Homo sapiens: one gene and its partners. The protein of the gene in region 3 interacts with the protein of the main gene of each other region in a pairwise test. Each region holds a gene or a part of one and is shown on either strand. Other genes may lie near its edges.

What was found.
Region 1: the proteins of MOB3C (region 3) and TFCP2 interact in binary tests that used the Homo sapiens proteins (3 or more experiments, as listed by UniProt).
Region 2: the proteins of MOB3C (region 3) and PCYT1A interact in binary tests that used the Homo sapiens proteins (3 or more experiments, as listed by UniProt).

What each region holds. Positions count from the first base shown.
Region 1 is NC_000012.12:51,114,136-51,121,163, reverse strand, and holds part of TFCP2 (alpha-globin transcription factor CP2), read left to right. Parts: intron 1-2,391; coding exon 2,392-2,543; intron 2,544-3,416; coding exon 3,417-3,493; intron 3,494-4,743; coding exon 4,744-4,849; intron 4,850-7,028.
Region 2 is NC_000003.12:196,242,727-196,249,754, forward strand, and holds part of PCYT1A (choline-phosphate cytidylyltransferase A), read right to left. Parts: intron 5,598-7,028; coding exon 5,481-5,597; intron 4,793-5,480; coding exon 4,641-4,792; intron 1-4,640. UniProt on the Homo sapiens protein: Catalyzes the key rate-limiting step in the CDP-choline pathway for phosphatidylcholine biosynthesis.
Region 3 is NC_000001.11:46,607,196-46,613,816, reverse strand, and holds the end of MOB3C (MOB kinase activator 3C), read left to right. Parts: intron 1-445; 5' UTR 446-495; coding exon 496-913; intron 914-3,612; coding exon 3,613-3,815; intron 3,816-4,132; coding exon 4,133-4,162; 3' UTR 4,163-6,098; downstream 6,099-6,621. UniProt on the Homo sapiens protein: May regulate the activity of kinases.

The sequences.
Region 1 (7,028 bases), on a different chromosome or scaffold from region 3:
CAGGCATGAGCCATACCGTGCCTAGCCAAGGGAATCTTAATTGTTTCTTTTATTTCATGTACCCTGTTCCTTTTCTTTTGTACCCAGAAGTACTCTGTGGCCTATATATATTTTTTCTTTTTTAAAAAAAACTTTACTGTGGAAAATTTCAAACATATACAAAGTAAACAGAATAATATGATGAACCCTCTTGTACTCATCACCTTGCTTTAACATGTTACTACTCTTTTTACCTTTTTTTTTTTTTTTTTTTTGAGACACAGTCTCGCTATGTCGCCCAGGCTGGAGTGCAGTGGCACAATCTCGGCTCAAGTGATTCTCGTGCCTCAGCCTCTGACATAGCTGGGATTACAGATGTGTGTCTCCACACCCATCTAATTTTTGTATTTTTATTAATAGTAGAGATGGGGTTTCACCATGTTGGCCAAGCTGGTCTTGAACTCCTGGCCTCAAGTGATCTGCCTGCCTTGGCCTCCCAAAGTGCTGGAATTACAGCCGTGAGCCACCACACCTAGCCCTCTTTTATTATTTTTACTTCTACCTATTCCCCATCCTCTAATCAATAATTTTTTTTTTAGGTAAAATTCATATACAATGAGATGCAAAAATAAGCTGTTACAGTTACAACCACGTAGCAGACCTATCATAGTATAATACATTTTTATCTCCCTACAAAGTTCCCTTATATACCTTCCAAGTCATCCCCTGCCCCACCAGGAAACCATTGTTCTCTTTGGCTCTGCCTGTTTTAGACTGTCATATAAACAGAACCATGCATTACACATTCTTTGTGTCCGGCTTTTTTTGTCGAGCATTATATCTGTGAGATTCATCCGTGTTGCATTCCTTTGTTTCACTGAGTAGTCCATTGTATGGATATACCATGGTTTGTACATCCGTTCTCTTACTCATGAACATTTAGGTTCTTTCCAGTTTTTATTTTTTTGTTGTTGTTGTTGTTCTTTTTTTTTTTTTTTTTTTTTTTTGAGACAGAGTCTTGCTTTGTTGCCCAGGCTGGAGTGCAGTGCCACGATCTCGGCTCACTGCACCTCTGCCTCCTGAGGTCAAGTGATTCTCCTGCCTCAGCCTCCCAAGTATCTGGGACCACAGGCATGCGCCACCACACCCAGCTAATTTTTGTAATTTTGGTAGAGACAGGGTTTCACCATGTTGGCCAGGCTGGTCTCAAACTCCTGACCTCAGGTGATCCACCCGCCTCGGCCTCCCGAAGTGCTGGGATTACAGGCGTGAGCACCTGGCCTAGTTTTTGCTTTTATGCTGTGAACATTTATAACAAGTCTTGGGTGGACTTACATTTTCATTTTTCTTGGATAAGTACCAATGGGTGGAATTGCTGGGTCAATAGATGCATGGTTAATTTAATTTAATTTTTTTAATTAATTTTTTTTTTTTGAGATGGAGTTTCGCCTTTGTTGCCCAGGCTGGAGTGCAGTGGCACCATCTCGGCTCACTACAACCTCCACCTCCCGGGTTCAAGCAGTTCTCCTGCCTCAGCCTCTTGAGTAGCTGGGATTACAGGCATGCGCCACCACTCCCAGCTAGGTTTGTATTTTTAGTAGAGACAGGGTTTCGCCATGTTGGTCAGGCGGGTTTCCACCTCCGGACCTCAGGTGATCCGCCCACCTCGGCCTCCCAAATTGCTGGGATTACAGGCATGAGCCACTGTGCCTGACTGCATGTTTAATTTTATAAAAAACTGCCAAACCTTTTCCTAAACTGTTTTATGTCATTGTACATTGCTACTGACAAAAGGATGAGAGTGTGGTTTTACATTCCCACTGACAAAGGATGGGTATGTGTCTTTGGTTTGCAAGTTTAGATAAACTGATAGATACAAAAAGCTTTTTCTTAGAGGAAATGGCTTGTAGGAACATCTCAATATTAGTTGTTATTCCACAGAATGTAAGATGACCTTGAAATATATACTCGTTATTGATTTGTCCTTTTCACGTGGCTTCTAAGGAATTGTAGAAGTTATTTTAGTCCTTATAGTAAATCAGCTGATATGGTTATATAGATAGTATAGTTGTTGCCTTTCTGAGAATGAAGACGTTACTGAATGTCCTAGATTTATACATTTTAGAACTCTGTTTATAATTTCCACAGTCCTTTTAGGAACCCCTGTCTATGATTCCTAGAAACATTCTCTTTAACACTTAGTGGTTTTAGCAGTGAATATCTGTCATCACCCACACTGTTGTGGTCAGGGGGATATCACAGCAGGTAATCTAAATGGAATTCTTGGGATGAAACTCCACCAAGGTGAGTAATGTTTATGGCTTTCCAAAGCATTGCAGTTAAATCATTCAGCAATAAACCTGCGTTTGCACCATTGCCAGGTATTAATGTGAGTCATTTGTTTTATTTTAGTGATGTCCTTGCATTGCCCATTTTTAAGCAAGAAGAGTCGAGTTTGCCTCCTGATAATGAGAATAAAATCCTGCCTTTTCAATATGTGCTTTGTGCTGCTACCTCTCCAGCAGTGAAACTCCATGATGAAACCCTAACGTATCTCAATCAAGGTTAGATGCTTCCTCATTCATTAGTACTATTGCAGACCTACTGTATTTATGATTTTTTTGTTTGTTTGTTTGTTTTGAGACGGCGTCACCCAGGCTGGAGTGTAGTGGCGCCATCTTGGCTCACTGCAAGCTCTGCCTCCCGGGTTCACACCATTCTCCTGCCTCAGCCTCCTGAGTAGCTGGGACCACAGGCACCCGCCACCACACCCGGCTAATTTTTTTGTATTTTTAGTAGAGATAGGGTTTCATCGTGTTAGCCAGGATGGTCTCGATCTCCTGACCTCATGATCCGCCTGCCTTGGCCTCCCAAAGTGCTGGGATTACAGGCGTGAGCCACCGTGCCCGGCCATTTATGATGTTTTATTAGGTACACTTATATGTAAAAACTTAGATCTTTCTAGTGTGGCCTATCAAACTAGAAGTCCTACTTCAGAGATTTGAGTTCTAATGTCATACTTGATATCTATTACTAGCTTCTTTTGCTTAGCTGTCCATTTTTAGTGTCCAGCTTCCTCTTCCTAATCATATTCCCTAGACACTCCCATTGGTTACTGTCTGAGAAGTATTACTCTACCTGGCTCTATTATTTACCAATTGTGTGGCCTTGGACAAGTTGCTAAAACTCTTTTAAGTTTCAATTTCTTTGTCTGTAAAATGGGATTGATAATACCTTAGAAAAGTATATCAGTTAAATGAGATAATGTGACAATACTTAGCACAGTGCTGAGCATCTTGTAAAGGCTTCTGATTGTTGTTACTAATACTAATAATATTATTATACTGTTGTATATTCAACCAACTGAATTTTATTCTTTCCGAATCTAGCAAAGTTAATTTGTGGTGAATATAATATGTAATTACTTTTTCTTCTAGGACAGTCTTATGAAATTCGAATGCTAGACAATAGGAAACTTGGAGAACTTCCAGAAATTAATGGCAAATTGGTGAAGGTAAAACGAATAAATCATTCTTCTGTACAATATTTTTTACTAATCCTTTTGGGATTTTAAATTTTGTTGTTGTTGTTAATGTTCTTTTGCTTCCAATGGCTTAATGGTATCTCTTGCCTGCAGTAATTTGTTGGCAGAGTAGTAAGCTGATGTGTTATTTCTTTGGGGTCAGAGTAAGCCCCAGTATTCACATGAATTTTTCAGAGCTGCAGAAATAGAACGCTTACCACTCCCTGTCCAGGGTAATCACCCCTGGCTCAGTGAAGTTCTTTTGGGTGGAGTAAAGTAACCTCCTTGAGATCTTTAGAGAAGCCTCAGTGTCTTTTTTGATACTTAGTCTTATAGCAAGGAAAACAGAAGCTACTTTGATGAAGAGCAGTTCTCTTAGTCTAGATTAACAGTTAGGATTTTGATAATTCACAGCACAGTTGAAACAGAGGAGTTTTGTCAAAAGGTGGTGGGAGGAATTAATAGGCACTTCTACAAAGTAAGAGTAACAAAAGGAAAGTTGATGGAAACAGGCTCTACCTACCCTCAGTGTTTACAGGTTGTATGGTGGGTTAGCAAGCGGGGGAGTTGGTGAGTTTTTCATATACATCTGAAGAGCTAAGCCAGATAGGCCGTGGTATAACAGAAGAGGTGTGCAGAAACGCTTCAGACAGGAGTACTTTATTCCTAGTTACCATCGGACTGAAGTTTAAGCCAAGTTTTAAATATGGTACCAGTTAACTATAAAGATTCTATCTGAGAAATTGGCTGGACCCGGTGGCTCACGCCTATAGTCCCAGCACTTTGAGAGGCTGAGGCGGGCGGGTCGCCTGAGGTTGGGAGTTTGAGACCAGCCTGACCAACATGGAGAAACCCTGTCTCTACAAAAAATACAAAATTAGTCAGGCGTGGTAGCACATGCCTGTAATCCCAGCTACTCAGGAGGCTGAGGCAGGAGAATTCCTTGAACCCGGGAGGTGGAGGTTGCGGTGAGCCGAGATCACACCATTGCACTCCAACCTGGGCAACAAGAGCAAAATCTGTTTCAAAAAAAAAAAAAAAGATTATATCTGAGAAATTATAAAATTTTATCCTGAAATAGCACTTAGTATGGTATGGGTTTTAGAGTGAAACAGATCTTAAGAAAAATAATTTTAGATTGCGTTTAGAAACAAACTGGCAGTGAATCCTGCTAGTTTTTCTTTGTCAGCACTGATTTTCAAGAGGTCTTGTTATCATCTGATTTTGTTGTATCCTTTTAGAGTATATTCCGTGTGGTGTTCCATGACAGAAGGCTTCAGTACACTGAGCATCAGCAGCTAGAGGGCTGGAGGTGGAACCGACCTGGAGACAGAATTCTTGACATAGGTGAGTTAAGAGAATCTATTGCCTAGGAAATGCCTTTAGCTATGGACCCAGAGTTGGTTTTCTTTATTTGACATTTACCTTGATTCATATGCTTGAGAGGCTCAATTAGTATAAACCTTGAAATTATTTACTAAGCATAAAAAATTTTAAGTAATACAAGTTAAAATGATATCAAAATTGAAGTTGGAAGTGTAAACACTTTAGTTCCATAGCAACTATAGGTTGATTTTGTTGTTTTTTAAGTTGTGGTAAAATATACATTACATAAAAGTTATCATTTTAACCATTTTTAAGTGGATAGTTCAGTAACATTAGGTACATTCACATTATTGTGTAACCATCACTATCATCCATCTCCAGAACTTTTCTCATCTGCAAAACCAGAAGTCTGTACCTGTTAAACAACAACTCCCCATTCTCCCTTCTTCACAGCCCCTGGTAACCACTATTCTCCTTTCTGTCTCTATGAATTGGACTACTAAGTACTGCATAAATGAAATCATACAGTATTTGTCCTTTTGTGACTGGCATTTTTCACTTAGCATAATGTTTTCAAGGTTCATGGTATAGCATACATTAGCATTTCCTTCCCATGCAAGGCTGAATAATACTCCATTGTGTGTATATATCACACTTTGTTTATCCATTCATCCCATGATAGGCACTTAATTTGATTCCATTTCCTGGCTATTGTGAATAATGCTGCTATGAACATGGATGTACAAATATGTGTTTGAGTCTCTGCTTTTAATTCTTTTGGATACATATCCAGAAATGGAATTGCTGGGTCATATGGTAACTCTATCTTAGATTTTTTTTAGAAACCACTATATTGTTTTCCACAGTGACTACACATTTTACATTTCTACCAGCGGTACTCAAAGGTTCCAATTTCGGCCGGGCGCGATGGCTCACGCCTGTAATCCCAAAACTTTGGGAGGCCAAGGTGGGCAGAACATGAGGTCAGGAAATCGAGACCATCCTGGCTAACATGGTGAAACCCCGTCTCCACTCAAAATACAAAGAAATTAGCTGGGCGTGGTGGCGGGCGCCTGTAGTCCCAGCTACCCAGGAGGCTGAGGCAGGAGAATGGTGTGAACCCGGGAGGCGGAGCTTGCAGTGAGCCAAGACCACGCCACTGCACTCCAGCCTGGGTGACAGAGCGAGACTCTCTCAAAAAAAAAAAAAAAAAAAAGGTTCCAATTTCTCCAATCCTTGTCAACACTTGTTGCTTTCCTTTTTTTTTTTTTCCTGAGATGGAGTTTCGCTCTTGTTGCCCAGGCTGGAGTGCAATGGCGCGATATCAACTCACCACAACCTCTCCCTCCCAGGTTCAAGTGATTCTCCTGCCTCAGCCTCCAAGTAGCTGGGATTACAGGCATGCACCACCACACCTAGCTAATTTTTGTATTTTTGGTAGAGACGGGGTTTCACCATGTTGGCCAGGGTAGTCTCAATCTCTTGACCTCTTGATCTGCCCGCCTCGGCCTCCCAAAGTGCTGGGATTACAAGCGTGAGCCACCACACCTGGCCTGTTGCTTTCTATTTTTTGATAATATCCATCCTGATGGTTGTGAAGTAGTATCTCATTGTGGTTTTGATTTGCATTTCCCTGGTGATAAGTGATGTCAAGCATCTTTGCATGTGCTTATTGGCCATTTATATATTTTCTTTCTTTCTTTATTTTTATTTATTTATTTATTTATTTTTGAGATGGAGTCTCCCTCTGTCGCCCAGGCTGGAGTGCAGTGGCATGATCTTGGCTTACTACAACTTCCACCTCCCGGGTTCAAGCGATTTTCCTGCCTCAGCCTCCTGAGTAGCTGGGATTACAGGTGCCCGCCACCACACCCAGCTAATTTTTGTGTTTTAGTAGAGACAGGGTTTTGCCATGTTGGCCAGGCTGGTCTTGAACTCCTGACCTCAGGTGATCCACCCGCCTTGGCCTCCCAAAGCGCTGGGATTACAGGTGTGAGCCAAGGCTCCCGGCCCATCATTTATATATTTTCTTTGGAGAAATGTCTGTTCAAGTCTTTTGCCCACTATCGAATTGGATTGTTTTGTTTTTTTTGTTATTGAGTTGAAAGAATTTTTAAAATATTCTGGATATTAACCCCATAGCAGATATATCACATGCAAATCTTTTCTGTTATTGTGTGGGTTGCTTTTTTACTGTGTT
Region 2 (7,028 bases), on a different chromosome or scaffold from region 3:
ATAGGCAGAGGCCAGGCCTCAGTGGACTTCATATCTCTCTTTGCTTTGCTCATAAATTCTACAATCTATTCACAAACCACCCAACCTAATGATTTATGGAGTATACATATGAAGTTAGCCAGCTGCTTTTGTAGCTATTTCTCCTAGTCTGCTAGAACTGTTACCCTCACTCTGTATACCAGTCATCTTGCTGTGGTCAATAGGGCCAGAGGGTTTGCTGGTGAACCGGTTAGTGGGTGGAGCCTAGGAAAGAAGGAAATCTCCCTGTCCTGGGTCTGGAAGGATTTGGTCAAATAAGGGTTTCTAAAAGTATGAGAAAGGCCAGGCACGGTGGCTCATGCCTGTAATCCCAGCACTTTGGGAGGCCAAGGCGGGCAGATCACGAGGTCAGGAGTTCAAGACTAACGTGGCTAACATGGTGAAACCCCGTCTCTACTAAAAATACAAAAAAATTAGCCAGGCATGGTGGCGGGCGCTTGTAGTCCCAGCTACTTGGGAGGCTGAGGCAGGAGAATTGCTTGAACCCAGGAGGCAGAGGCTACAGTGAGCCAAAATCGCACCACTGCACTCCAGCCTGGGTGACAAAGCAAGACTCTGTCTCAAAAAAAAAAAAAGTATGAGAAAGAGGTTACTTCTTTCTTAACTAGTTTCTCTCAGTCCGTGAGAAAAGAGGGAATATAAAAATAGCAACCACGAGCCCTCTGACTGGAATAGATACATCTATTGGCCTGAGAAATACAAACCGAAGGCCATAAGAGAAGTTTTCTCCCTCTCCCCTCTCCCTTCTCCCCTCTCCCCTCTCCCTCTCCCCACGGTCTCCCTCTCCCTCTCTTTCTATGGTCTCCCTCTGATGCCGAGCGGAAGCTGGACTGTACTGCCGCCATCTCTGCTCACTGCAACCTCCCTGCCTGATTCTCCTGCCTCAGCCTGCCCAGTGCCTGCCATTGCAGGCGCACGCCGCCACGCCTGACTGGTTTTCGTATTTTTTTGGTGGAGACAGGGTTTTGCTGTGTTGGCCGGGCTGGTCTCCAGCTCCTAACCGCGAGTGATCCGCCAGCCTCGGCCTCCCGAGGTGCCGGGATTGCAGACGGAGTCTCGTTCACTCAGTGCTCAATGCTGCCCAGGCTGGAGTGCAGTGGCGTGATCTCGGCTCGCTACAACCTCCACCTCCCAGCCGCCTGCCTTGGCCTCCCAAAGTGCTGAGACTGCAGCCTCTGCCCGGCCGCCACCCCGTCTGGGAAGTGAGGAGCGTCTCTGCCTGGCCGCCCATCGTCTGGGATGTGAGGAGCCCCTCTGCCCGGCCGCCCAGTCTGGGAAGTGAGGAGCGCCTCTTCCCGGCCGCCCATCGTCTGAGATGTGGGGAGCGCCTCTGCCCCGCCGCCCCATCTGGGATGTGAGGAGCGCCTCTGCCAGGCCACGACCCCGTCTGGGAACTGAGGAGTGTCTCTGCCCGACCGCCACCCAGTCTTGGAGGTGAGGAGCGCCTCTGCCCGGCCACGACCCCGTCTGGGATGTGAGGAGCGTCTCTGCCTGGCCGCCCATCGTCTGGGATGTGAGGAGCCCCTCTGCCCGGCTGCCCAGTCTGGGAAGTGAGGAGCGCCTCCTCCCCGCCGCCATCCCGTCTAGGAAGTGAGGAGCGTCTCTGCCCGGCCGCCCATCGTCTGAGATGTGGGGAGCGCCACTGCCCCGCCGCCCCGTTTGGGATGTGAGGAGCTCCTCTGCCCGGCCGCGACCCGGTCTGGGAAGTGAGGAGCGTCTCCGCCCGGCAGCCACCCCGTCCGGGAGGTGAGGGGCGCCTCTGCCCGGCCGCCCCTACTGGGAGGTGAGGAGCCCCTCTGCCCGGCCACCACCCCGTCTGGGAGGTGTACCCAACAGCTCATTGAGAACGGGCCATGATGACGATGGCGGTTTTGTCGAATAGAAAAGGGGGAAATGTGGGGAAAAGATAGAAAAATCAGATTGTTGCTGTGTCTGTGTAGAAAGAAGTAGACATGGGAGACTCAATTTTGTTCTGTACTAAGAAAAATTCTTCTGCCTTGGGATCCTGTTGATCTGTGACCTTACCCCCAACCCTGTGCTCTCTGAAACATGTGCTGTGTCCACTCAGGGTTAAATGGATTAAGGGCGGTGCAAGATGTGCTTTGTTAAACAGATGCTTGAAGGCAGCATGCTCGTTAAGAGTCATCACCACTCCCTAATCTCAAGTACCCAGGGACACAAACACTGCAGAAGGCCGCAGGGCCCTCTGCCTAGGAAAACCAGAGACCTTTGTTCACTTGTTTATCTGCTGACCTTCCGTCCACTATTGTCCTATGACCCTGCCAAATCCCCCTCTGCGAGAAACACCCAAGAATGATCAATAAAAATACATAAATAAATAAAAGAAGTTTTATCCTCAGGATCTATCATTTCACTACTTTTTTTTTTTTTTTTGAGACCGAGTCTCGCTCTGTCGCCCAGGCTGGAGTGTAGTGGCACAGTCTCGGCTCACTGAAACCTCTGCCTCCTGGATTCAAGCGATTCTCCTGCCTCAGCCTCCCGAGTAGCTGGGACTACAGGCGCATGTCACCCCGCCTGGTTAATCTTTGCATTTTTAGTAGACAGGGTTTCACCGTGTTGGCCAGGCTGGTCACGAACTCCTGACCTCAAGTGATCCACCTGACTTGGCCTCCCAAAGTGCTGGGATTACAGGCGTGAGCCACAGCGCCTGGCCATTTTACTGCTATGAATATCCTTTGCAAGGGCAAGAAGAGATGAATGATACTGGGGATCAATAATGTTGTTCGGAGGCGTGCTAAACTTCACTTACTCCTTCCTGTATGGGCCACCAGCCTTTTGCTGATAATTACTAAGATCACTATACCATCCCCGAGAGACCACTGTAGTGTGAAGCATGTTCATTGGGACTATGTCAGAGACTCTCAGCCAGCATCTCAATTACTCATGAACAACTTGTCAGGGATCCATAGGCAGCAAAGTAAAGAATAGGAGGCCGGGTGGATCACCTGAGGTCAGGAGTTCAAGACCAGCCTGGCCAAAACGGCGAAACACTGCCTCTACTAAAAATACAAGAAATTAGCCGGGCATGGTGGCGCGCACCTGTAATCCCAGCTACTCGGGAGGCTGAGGCAGGCGAATCACTTGAACCCGGGAGGCGGAGGTTGCGGTGATCCGAGATCACGCCATTGCACTCCAGCCTGGGCAACAGAGCAAAACTCTGTCTCAAAAAAAAAAAAAAAAAGAATGGGACAAGCAAAACTCAAGGTTGAGTATATATTGTTAACAAAGAGAAAAGGGGAGTTAGAAATTCCTCTAACTTCATACTTCTGTCTGGGCCTGTGGGCTGTGGTGCTGAGAATAAACTTGCTTACCACCTTTGGTGCCACTGGCTGCTAGGTGTTGATGTAGAAAAGCCAGAGAATTATAAAAGGTCTGTCCTAATCCTCAATAGTTTTAATAAATATCCCCTCTTCAGGCCTACCCACGTATTGCTTTAGAAGCACTTTGGCTGCCTTCATTCTTTCTGCCTCACTGAACAATTTACCTACAACATTCCACGCGCCCCTGTAGAGAACTGACAACATGCTTGCTATTTCCTCAGGCTTGGGGGCCTCTAACCTGGCCTAATCAATCCTTCTCATCTTTTGTACCCACCTTTTGCAGGAAACCTGTGGCTTTTTTTTTTTTAAAGTAGAGACAGGGTCTCGGTATGTTGCCCAGGCTGGTCTTGAGCTCCTGGGCTCAAGCGATCCTCCCACCTTGGCCTCCCAAAGTGCTTGGATTACAGGCGTGAGCCACTGCACCTGGCTGAAATCTGTTACTTTAATGTGGGAGAATTAAAAGGAGGTAAGGGGTTGATAATAACTTACTGAGAAACAGTGAGAAATATCCTTGATTTCTGATTCCACCCAATTTCTAGCATAAGATCAAAGCCCTGAAATGAAACTTAAGCCAAGAAAAGTCTATGTTAATCCGTCTTATTTCCTGGTAATGTGACCGTCTTCAGAGTTCACCTGGGGCTATGGATATTCTCAGGAGACTGGCATGTTCTAAGGGTAGATGTGCCTATGGTGTGGGGGGAAGGTCTCGTAACTGGTGAGTTCAGTTCCCAGCCCTGCCAGTGGTGTAACTTGTGGCGAGTTCAGTTCCCAGCCCTGCCAGTGGTGTAATTTGTGGCGAGTTCAGTTCCCAGCCCTGCCAGTGGTGTAACTTGTGGCGAGTTCAGTTCCCAGCCCTGCCAGTGGTGTAACTTGTGGCGAGTTCAGTTCCCAGCCCTGCCAGTGGTGTAACTTGTGGCGAGTTCAGTTCCCAGCCCTGCCAATGGTGTAACTTGGAGCAGGTTATTTGGTTTCTCTAGCCCTTGTTACTCATATGTAAAGCGGAAATGACAAACACACCACAGGATTGCTGTGGGCAGAAAATGGAATAGAATGGATGTAAAAGTGCTTGCAAACCATCCAGCCCCATATAAACGTCAGGGGTGACTGTTATCACTAGTAATATCACTGTCATCTCCTACGAAACTTACATAAGAGGTAGAAGTAAAACACGGCTAGTGGAAAACCAGCCTACGTGCCAGCAGCTTTGAGAGTTGAGGGGATTCTGAAACAAGGAATGGGAATATGTGTCCAGTTTCTTACCCGGTGTTCGGCCAGGAACTCGGGTGTCAGCGTCCAGGGCGCATTCCTCACCACCTCATCCACGTAGCGGCAGTGCTGGACTGCGTCATAGCGCTCATTCTCGTTCATCACCGTGAAGCCTTTGAAGTTGTGTGTGAGCTCATCACTGCAAACTGGTTCACCACATCATAAATTGTGTGTTGGAGTCCTCTTTGCTTAGCACCTCCTCAGCCACCGACCTCTCCCATCTTCTCCCACTGCTTAGGACTGCAACCATCTTCCCCAACTGGAAAAAAGTCTTCTAAAGGTGGTTGAACCTGGGTGATAACGCTTTTCCTAATGCAGCGTATACCTTCAGGAGCAACACTCACTAAACAGTATGTTCATACTTTGGAGAAGGGACAGTACAACAGGTGACCAAGATCTTTGACTCTGAAATAAACCTGCTGTGCGTGTCTGCATCAATTAAGTCCTTAAACATGTTTTCCTGTTTTATTCACACTGGACTGGACCACCTAACATTTCCTTGGCAGACTTTTGTACTCCAGTTAATTCAAAATGATAAACTGAAATCTAAAGCAAATGTTTTAAAGTGGACAACGGAAGTCACGGCTGCTCCTGTGACCACAGAAACTCAGCTACAAGCAGTGAATAAATGCCAGATGGCACAGTCGAGGAGCTTGAAGCTCCTCTCTCCAGGTTTAGTTTGCTGGTACCCATATACTTCATGTGTGTTAGAGAGGCTGTACTACATCCTTCATTTAAAAATGGAAACAAGAGCCAGTGTACTCAGCTGAGAAAGACAGACTGTACTATCATCTTTTTCTGCACAGCACCTGAAGTCACCAAATGTTTTCTTACCTCCCACAATGAGGTACGTATTAGGGAAAAGGTTCTTCGCTTGCATCAGAGCTCGGGCGTGACCAGAGTGAAATAAGTCAAATATTCCATCGGCATAAACTCTCACAGGTCGCTCACCTAAATCCAAATGAAAGAATTGATCACAAAAATACCTTTTTTTTTGTCATTTTTATTTTTATTTTTGAGGCCGAGTCTCACTCTGTCACCCAGGCTGGAGTGCAGTGGCGTGATCTCGGCTCACTGCAACTTCCGCCTCCTGGGTTCAAGTGATTCTCCTGCCTCAGCCTCCCAAGCAGCTGGGATTACAGGTGCATGTCATCACGCCTGCCTAATTTTTGTGTTTTTAGTAGAGATGGGGTTTTTCCTTGTTGGCCAGGCTGGTCTCGAATTCCTGGTCTCAAATGACCCGCCAGCCTCAGCCTCCCAAAGTGCTGGGATTACAGGTGTGAACCACCATGCCAAGCCACAAAAATACATTGATTCGATATCTTGTACTTGGCAAATGGAACTGGCTCTGTGTGACAGTTCCATGACTGTATACTCCTTTCTTTTTTTTTATTTTTTTCTTGAGACGGAATCTCGCTCCATCACCCAGACTGGAGTGCAGTGGCACGATCTCGGCTCACTACAACCTGCAACTCCCGGATTCAAGCGACTCTCCTGCCTCCGCCTCCTGAGTAGCTGGAACTACAGGCGCCCACCACCAAGCCCAGCTAATTTTTTGTATTATTTTTTAGTAGAGATGGGGTTTCACAGTGTTAGACAGGATGGTCTCGATCTCCTGACCTCGTGATCCACCCGCCTAAGCCTCCCAAAGTGCTGGGATTACAGGTGTGAGCAACCGCGCCCGGCCCAACTGCATACTCCTTTCTTTAGGTGTTCTCTGGGTATTCACCCTGATTTTAGGGGTAGGTTGGGTTATGAAAAATGACTATAAAGACCTTTTCATTTTTTTTTTGAGACAGGGTCTCACTCTGTCATCCAGCCTGGAGTGCACTGATGTGGTCACAGCTCACGGCAGCCTTGACCTCCTGGGCTCAAGTGATCCTCCCATCTCAGCCTCCCAAGTAGATGGGACCACAGATGGACACCACCATGCCCAGCTAATTTTTTTTTTTTTTTTTTGTAGAGACCATGTTGCCCAGGCTGGTCTCGAACTCCTGGACTCAAGCAATCCCACCTTGGCCTCCCAAAATGCTGGGATTCCAGGTGTGAGCCACCATGCTCAGCCTATAAAGAGATTTTTGACATCATCATCTGCACTAACTGCCTCTGTTAGCCTGGTTGTACCAAACTTTTCAGGCACAACAAATAACAGAGAACTGTCAACTTAGAAGCCAGGAAATGATTTCCCGGGGAACAAGACTAATTCCAAAGTGAAATAAACATTAAAAACAGAATCAGCATAATGGTCCATCATGCTTTAAATAATAAATCTAAGGAGTCCATGTAACTTATTCCCTTTCTGTGAATAAAGGAAGAGCTATTTTACTGCAGCAGAAACTGACAGGAGCATTTACATCATTTGGGAAAGATAGGTCAAAGTGT
Region 3 (6,621 bases):
GCCACCCCCGACCCCCCTCCACCCTGCCCCCAGCACAATGCTGCGAGGCTCTCCCACGTTGCACCAGCTGGCCAAGGGGGCTCCCAGAGGTCATCTCGTCCAAGCCCCTGTCTGCTGGTGGGCCTGCAGGGAGCCTCTGCGACCTCTCTCGTGACCAACAGCAAGTCTGAGGGGCACCTGTTTAGAGCCCAGGCCCAGCTCTGCAATGAAAGCAGAAAAGAGACAAAGCAAGATGGGAGGACTGTGGGGGCTTAGCAAGGGGGACTAACATAGCCTGGAAAGAGGGCGGGGCACTGGACCTAGGGGCTGAGGACTTAGATTCCAGGCAGAGGATGCAGAGGTTGAGCAAAGGCTGAGAGGTGACAGGGAAATGATGAATTGGGAAGTCAGAGCCCAGATGATAAGGCCTTGACCGCCAGCTCCCCTATGCCCTTGTCCCTGGCAGGGTATCCTCAGGTCCGAGCCCCTGGACAGCAGCCCCAGGCCCAGCTGGCCATGGCCCTGTGCCTGAAGCAGGTGTTCGCCAAGGACAAGACGTTCCGGCCGCGGAAGCGCTTTGAGCCGGGCACACAGCGCTTTGAGCTGTACAAGAAGGCACAGGCCTCTCTCAAGTCGGGCCTGGACCTGCGCAGTGTGGTGAGGCTACCACCCGGGGAGAACATCGACGACTGGATCGCCGTGCACGTGGTGGACTTCTTCAACCGCATCAACCTCATCTACGGCACTATGGCGGAGCGCTGCAGTGAGACCAGCTGCCCGGTCATGGCCGGCGGGCCCCGCTACGAGTACCGCTGGCAGGACGAGCGCCAGTACCGGCGGCCCGCCAAGCTCTCTGCGCCGCGCTATATGGCATTGCTCATGGACTGGATCGAAGGCCTCATCAACGACGAAGAGGTCTTTCCCACGCGTGTTGGTGAGTGTCACCTGGCGGGGAGGGAGCCACTGGGAGCCCATTCCACAGATGAGGATTTAGTTTGATATAGACACTCTGCAGGGTTGGGGGTTGATTTTCATCCCCATTTTGTGGAAGAGGAAAGCGAGGTTGAAACAGGTTAAGTGCCTTGCTCAAGGTCAAGCATTTGCTAGGACTTCCTGACTCCCAATTTGGGGCTTTTCTTTCTTTTCTTTTTCTTTCTTTCTTTCTTTTTTTTTTTTTTTCTTTTCTGAGACAGAGTTTCGGTCTTTCACCCAGTGGTGAGATCTCAGCTTACTGCAACCTCTGCCCCCCGGGTTCAAGCGATTCTCCTGCCTCAGCCTTCTGAGTAGCTGGGATTATAGGCACCCACCACCACGCCTGGCTAATTTTTGTATTTTTAGTAGAGACAGGGTTTCACCACATTGGCCAGGCTGATCTCGAACACCTGACCTCAGGTGATCCACCCACCTCAGAGGGCTTTTCTTTTCTAAAGCATAAGTGGTCCCACCAAGGACCACTCTGGCAAGACCACAGATGCTGTGATTCTCAGAACCTTCCAGAACAGTTGCCCCGAGGTGTTCATAGCTGATTTGACCTCCAGCCTCCCGGGGTTCCCTCTGACTCCTGGCCTCAGGAAAAGGAGGGAGTTGGTGGTTGGGTGGGCCCTGGTGGTATCATCACCTCAGATTGGGGCTCTGAGGACAGAATTTTCCCTTGCCAGGCACAGGCTGTGGGGCCTTTTCTTATCTCAGCTGGGCAGCCTGGGCGGGTGAGGGTAGGGAGGGGAGATGAGTGATGTCACCCAGGCACTGCTTACCCACCCGAGGGCAGCAGGAGGGGGTTGTTGGTCCAGGAGCTGAGCAGGCATGACACTGTGTTCATCACACCAGCCGCACCTGTAGCTGGGCCCAGCCCCCACCTGGCCTGGAGCTCATCTCTGCAGAGGCTGTGTGGATCAGCGGTGGGTGGGGCAGGGTGGTCAAGCCCTGAGGGGAGAAGTCTGAATGCTGAAGGAAGCTGGGCACTGAGTCACAATTCAATGCCCACGGCTCCTCCCCAGCCAGTGGCCTGCTGTTTCTTGCACTGTCATGCCCGACAAGGAGCACCTTCATTTTACATAGGAGGAAACTTGAGGCTACTGAGGGAAAGTGCACTGAACTGGGAGGAATTCCGAACTGGGGCTCAGATCTGTGGGAGCCCAGGACCCCAAGTCTACATGGGCAGGATATGTCTGAGGAATCTGGGCTGGGCTGGAGGGGCTCAGAGGGAGGGAAGGCTCGACCCCACCTGGGAATGGTGAGGAAGAGGAGGGGGTCTACAGAGCCGGGTGGGCCAGCTGTGGACCTGAATGTAGATTCATAGTCCCTGCTGGCCATACCTCCCTGGGCCTGTGGGACTCCAGGTATCGATGCCTAAAACCCTGGGTGACTGCCACACAGAGAAGAGGGCATAAGCCACCAAGATCTCTGCCTTGAGCATGGGGGACTATGCAGAAGCGGGGCCTTTTTCATGGGTCCCAATATCTGTGAGGGTCGCTGCAGTGCACTGCAAAGAGGGTCTGAATCCAGTCTCCATTCTGCACTGATTAATACTTATGTGGCCTTGGGCTAGCAGCTTCACCTTTATAAGCACTTCTGTTTTATCATATCTAAAGTGACAATCAGACACATCAGGCGAATTGTTCTAAGGATTAGAGGCAAAAGGTGTGAAGGGCCCAGCACAAGGCCTTGCTCATAAATGGAAGGTTCTTCGTGTTGTTGAATATTTGAAGGAATGAGGGCTGTCTGAACTAACTCTTGCAGAATTCATAATTTCCAGGATTGGGGGTCTGAGGACTTCTGTGTGAATGTTGAAAAGAGGAGGGACATGGGGTGGGGCTAGAGAGGGAGGTCAGGATAAGATCATGAAAGGCCTTGAGCAGCGTCCTGCTGGAAAGTTAGGACTTAATCCTGAAGGCCCAGGGATTTTTTAAATGGACCCAGTTGTTGAACTCTCCTTGGAGTTGTATACAAGAGTGTGATGTGAGCATCTCTGCAATTGCACATATTTCTGGGGAGAGTTTAGGTCGTAACTTTTATCATAGTCTAAAAAGGGTTGGTCAGTGACCCCCACAAGTTTGCAAAGCCCTGCTTTAGGTAATGGGAAAATGTGGAAGATGATGTATATTCCAGCAGGGGAGAGCCACAGTCAGATTTGTGCTTCATTAGAAAGAAAAGTATGGCCAGGCACAGTGGCTCATGCCTGTAATCCCAGCATTTAGGAGGACGAGGCAGGTGGATCACCTGAGGTCAGGAGTTCAAGACCAGCCTGACCAACATGGAGAAACCCTGTCTCTACTAAAAATACAAAATTAGCTGGGCATGATGGCACATGTCTGTAATCCCAGCTACTTGGGAGGCTGAGGCAGGAGAATACCTTGAACCTGGGAGGTGGAGGTTGCAGTGAGCCGAGATCATGCCATTGCACTTGCCTGGGCAAGAGTGAAACTCCGTCTCAAAAAGGAAAGAAAAAAAGAAAGGAAGAAAGAAAGAAAAGTATGGGAGAAAGTCAAACCACTCTCTGTTTTCCAAAGGGAAGTGTACTAAAAAGTGTGCTGGGGAAAAAGCCATCCTGGTTGCCTGTGTGTGGGAGGGAAAAGTTGAGCAGAGCTTTGGCACCAGGATACTGATCCCCTTCTGCCCTCCCCTGCCCTCTAGGAGTTCCCTTCCCTAAGAACTTCCAGCAGGTCTGCACCAAGATCCTGACCCGCCTCTTCCGAGTCTTTGTCCATGTCTACATCCACCACTTCGATAGCATCCTCAGCATGGGGGCAGAGGCGCACGTCAACACCTGCTACAAGCACTTCTACTACTTCATCCGCGAGTTCAGTCTGGTGGACCAGCGGGAGCTGGAGCCACTGGTGAGGCCAAGCCCTACCACCCTCCCCTACCAAGGCTAGCCTCTGAGTTTTCACGTCCAAAAGCTGCCTGCTTTAAGTAACTCCAACGCCCAAGTAGATGAATTAGGGGAAGGCAATTCATTTAACAGTGAATTCTGTACTTCAATAGAGAATTCATTCAAGTGTTGGTTTACAAACCCAGATCTGCAGCCTAAGAGTTGGGGTTGCTGGGGGAAGGCCAGGCTCAGACAGAAGAGCAGCTAGGCCCTATGGTTTGGGAAGGGATTGCCTAGTAGGCTGAGCTCTAATTGACCCCTCCCTACCTTGTGTCTCTACAGAGGGAGATGACAGAGCGGATCTGCCACTGAGCCCAGGTCTGGACTTTTTTGGCCATCAGATGGACGATCTGAACATAGGGTGGCTGGCAGAGGGGACCCCCAGGAGCCTGAAGGAATCTGAAGGCACTGGAATCACTCCACACACCCAAAGCCTCTGGACTTCTGGTTCTCAGGAGTCTGCCTACCTGTCGCCCTGACCGCTTGTGGATGGAGAAGGGGAGAGCATCTAGGCAGGCAAACAGAAGGGAAGTGGAGTTAAACCTCTGGCATGAAGTCTGGGAGTAGGGTAGGCTAGGGGGTTTCTTCTATGACACTTGACCCTTCCATGCTGGTTCCCAAGCCTATTGGAGGAATGTGGGTGTGGCCGAGGTGATGGCAAGAAAGGTGCAAGAAAGTGAGCAGTCTGCCTGTGAGTGAGCACAGATGCCGGGGTGTGTGTGTGTGTGTGTGATTTTCACTGTGGGGTGTGTCTGTGAGAGCTAGCTGCCTTACCCCTCCTTGGCACATAGTAGGCCTTCCATAAATGTTGGATGGATGGATAAATAGATTGGGACCATCAGACCATGGGACCATCAGACCATGACCACTGTAGGAGTGATGACAGCTCAGCGTCCCCACTCAGTGTATCTGACCATGTGTGTAAGTGCACAAAAATGTGGTTGTAGATGTTGCTCTACATTCAAACCTTCCAGGCTACACTCTTCCATCAGCATGAGTCCTGGAGAGCTGGGGGAACGTAGGAAGAGGAGCCTTGCCTTGAGTTCCTAAACCGACCCACTGCAGACACAGGCTCTGATTCTCTTACCCAGAGATGCCCATGAGCTGACATTTTACTCATCCCTCTGCCTCCAAGAAGGCCTGTATTATACGTGTCCTCCTGGGGGTTGGAGATGATCCCTCAAGTACACAAAGGTCCCCTGGCCCTTCATCTGGGAATCATATACTCCACTCTAGCTCCCAGAATCTACAGACCTGGCTCCTCGGATCTGAAGCCCAGCACAAAATAATCTCCCCGTCCAAGGAGCTTGTGGAACTTGAATTGGGAACTTTGGAGTCTTGTCTCCCATCCCAGCACATTGAGGATGTAGTTGGTGAATGGACTCTTCCAGGCATGGAGATCCTCCATCCTAAAAGTACCTGCCTCCTTCCCAGCCATCCCTGACACATTCCAGCCAGTTGGATCTCACAGCACAGCTATCCACAGGGAGACTGGGATGTTCACGCAGCACTCCATTACTCAGTACCTCCATACCCAGCCCTATACGCAGACCCACAGGTGGGGAAACTGAGGCAGGAACAGGGTTCTGCCCTCCCAGAGCCTCCACTCTGGGATGCCAGAATGGAAAGCCAGAGGGAACCTGAGAATCATCCAGTCTTACTGTCTCAATGTACATACGGGGAAACTGAAGCCAGGAGAAGAAGAGGGAGAAACTGTCCAGGGCCTCACAGGGAGGCATTCATGGAGCTGGAGAAACCAGGGATCCTGACCGCAGGGCCCATCAATTGCTACATAGAGATACACATGGAAAGAGGGTTTAACAGACCCTCTCTAGGACACAACTGTTTCTGCTTTGAGCAATAATTTCTAACCTGAGGCCAACATGTCCCACTGCCCCTTGGGTTGGCTGGGGTTGTTTCCTGAGCCAAGCATCCAATATCATGCCCCACTCAATGGCCTAGAAGCTGCCTGTACTTTGGGGAAACAGATGGAGCTCTTGGGCCCAGCCAGCTGGGCCTGGGACTTCTGCCTCTGCCGCCTCCAGAGTGGCCTGGCAGCTTTGCCAGAGGCTGTGGAGCGAGGGTAGTAGGAGCTTTTCCCAGAGTGCTGTGACTTGCATGATGGATTCTAGGCTGTGGCAAGGGCTGATTTCTGGGATAGGGGGAGGGTTGGAAAATTTATTTTTATGAAACAGAGGGAAGACTTTATTGTTGTTATTTTTGGTAAAATAAAAGGCAAACTAAAGCAGCCACTGGTGGGAAGCGGTGATCTGGGTGCCACATGGCTCTTGGCAGACCATGGAAGGAACTGAGCCAGAATGGGGCTGGGAAGGCTTTTTGTCCTGAGATACTGGACCATGTGGAGGGCTGGCTGGTGTGGTCATGTCTGGCCCAGCTCTCTAGGGTGGGGACACAAAGATTCTCCTGGGGCTCTGGAAATTCTAGACCGAGCTAGGCTAGGACGCTTGGGGTGGAGAAGCCTGGCTTTTCTTTGCCTTCCGGGAACTCAGTCTGATAGGAATCGTTCCTTGTTTCATCTCAGGTTGCCTGGCATTGGCTATTCTTTTTTTTCTTTTTCTTTTTTTTTTTTTTTTTGAGATGGAGTCTTGCTCTGTCACCCAGGTTGGAGTGCAGTGGCGCGATCTTGGCTCACTGCAAGCTCCGCCTCCTGGGTTCATGCCATTCTCCTGCCTCAGCCTCCGGAGTAGCTGGGACTACAGGCACCCACCACCACGCCCAGCTAATTTTTTTGTATTTTTAGTAGAAACGGG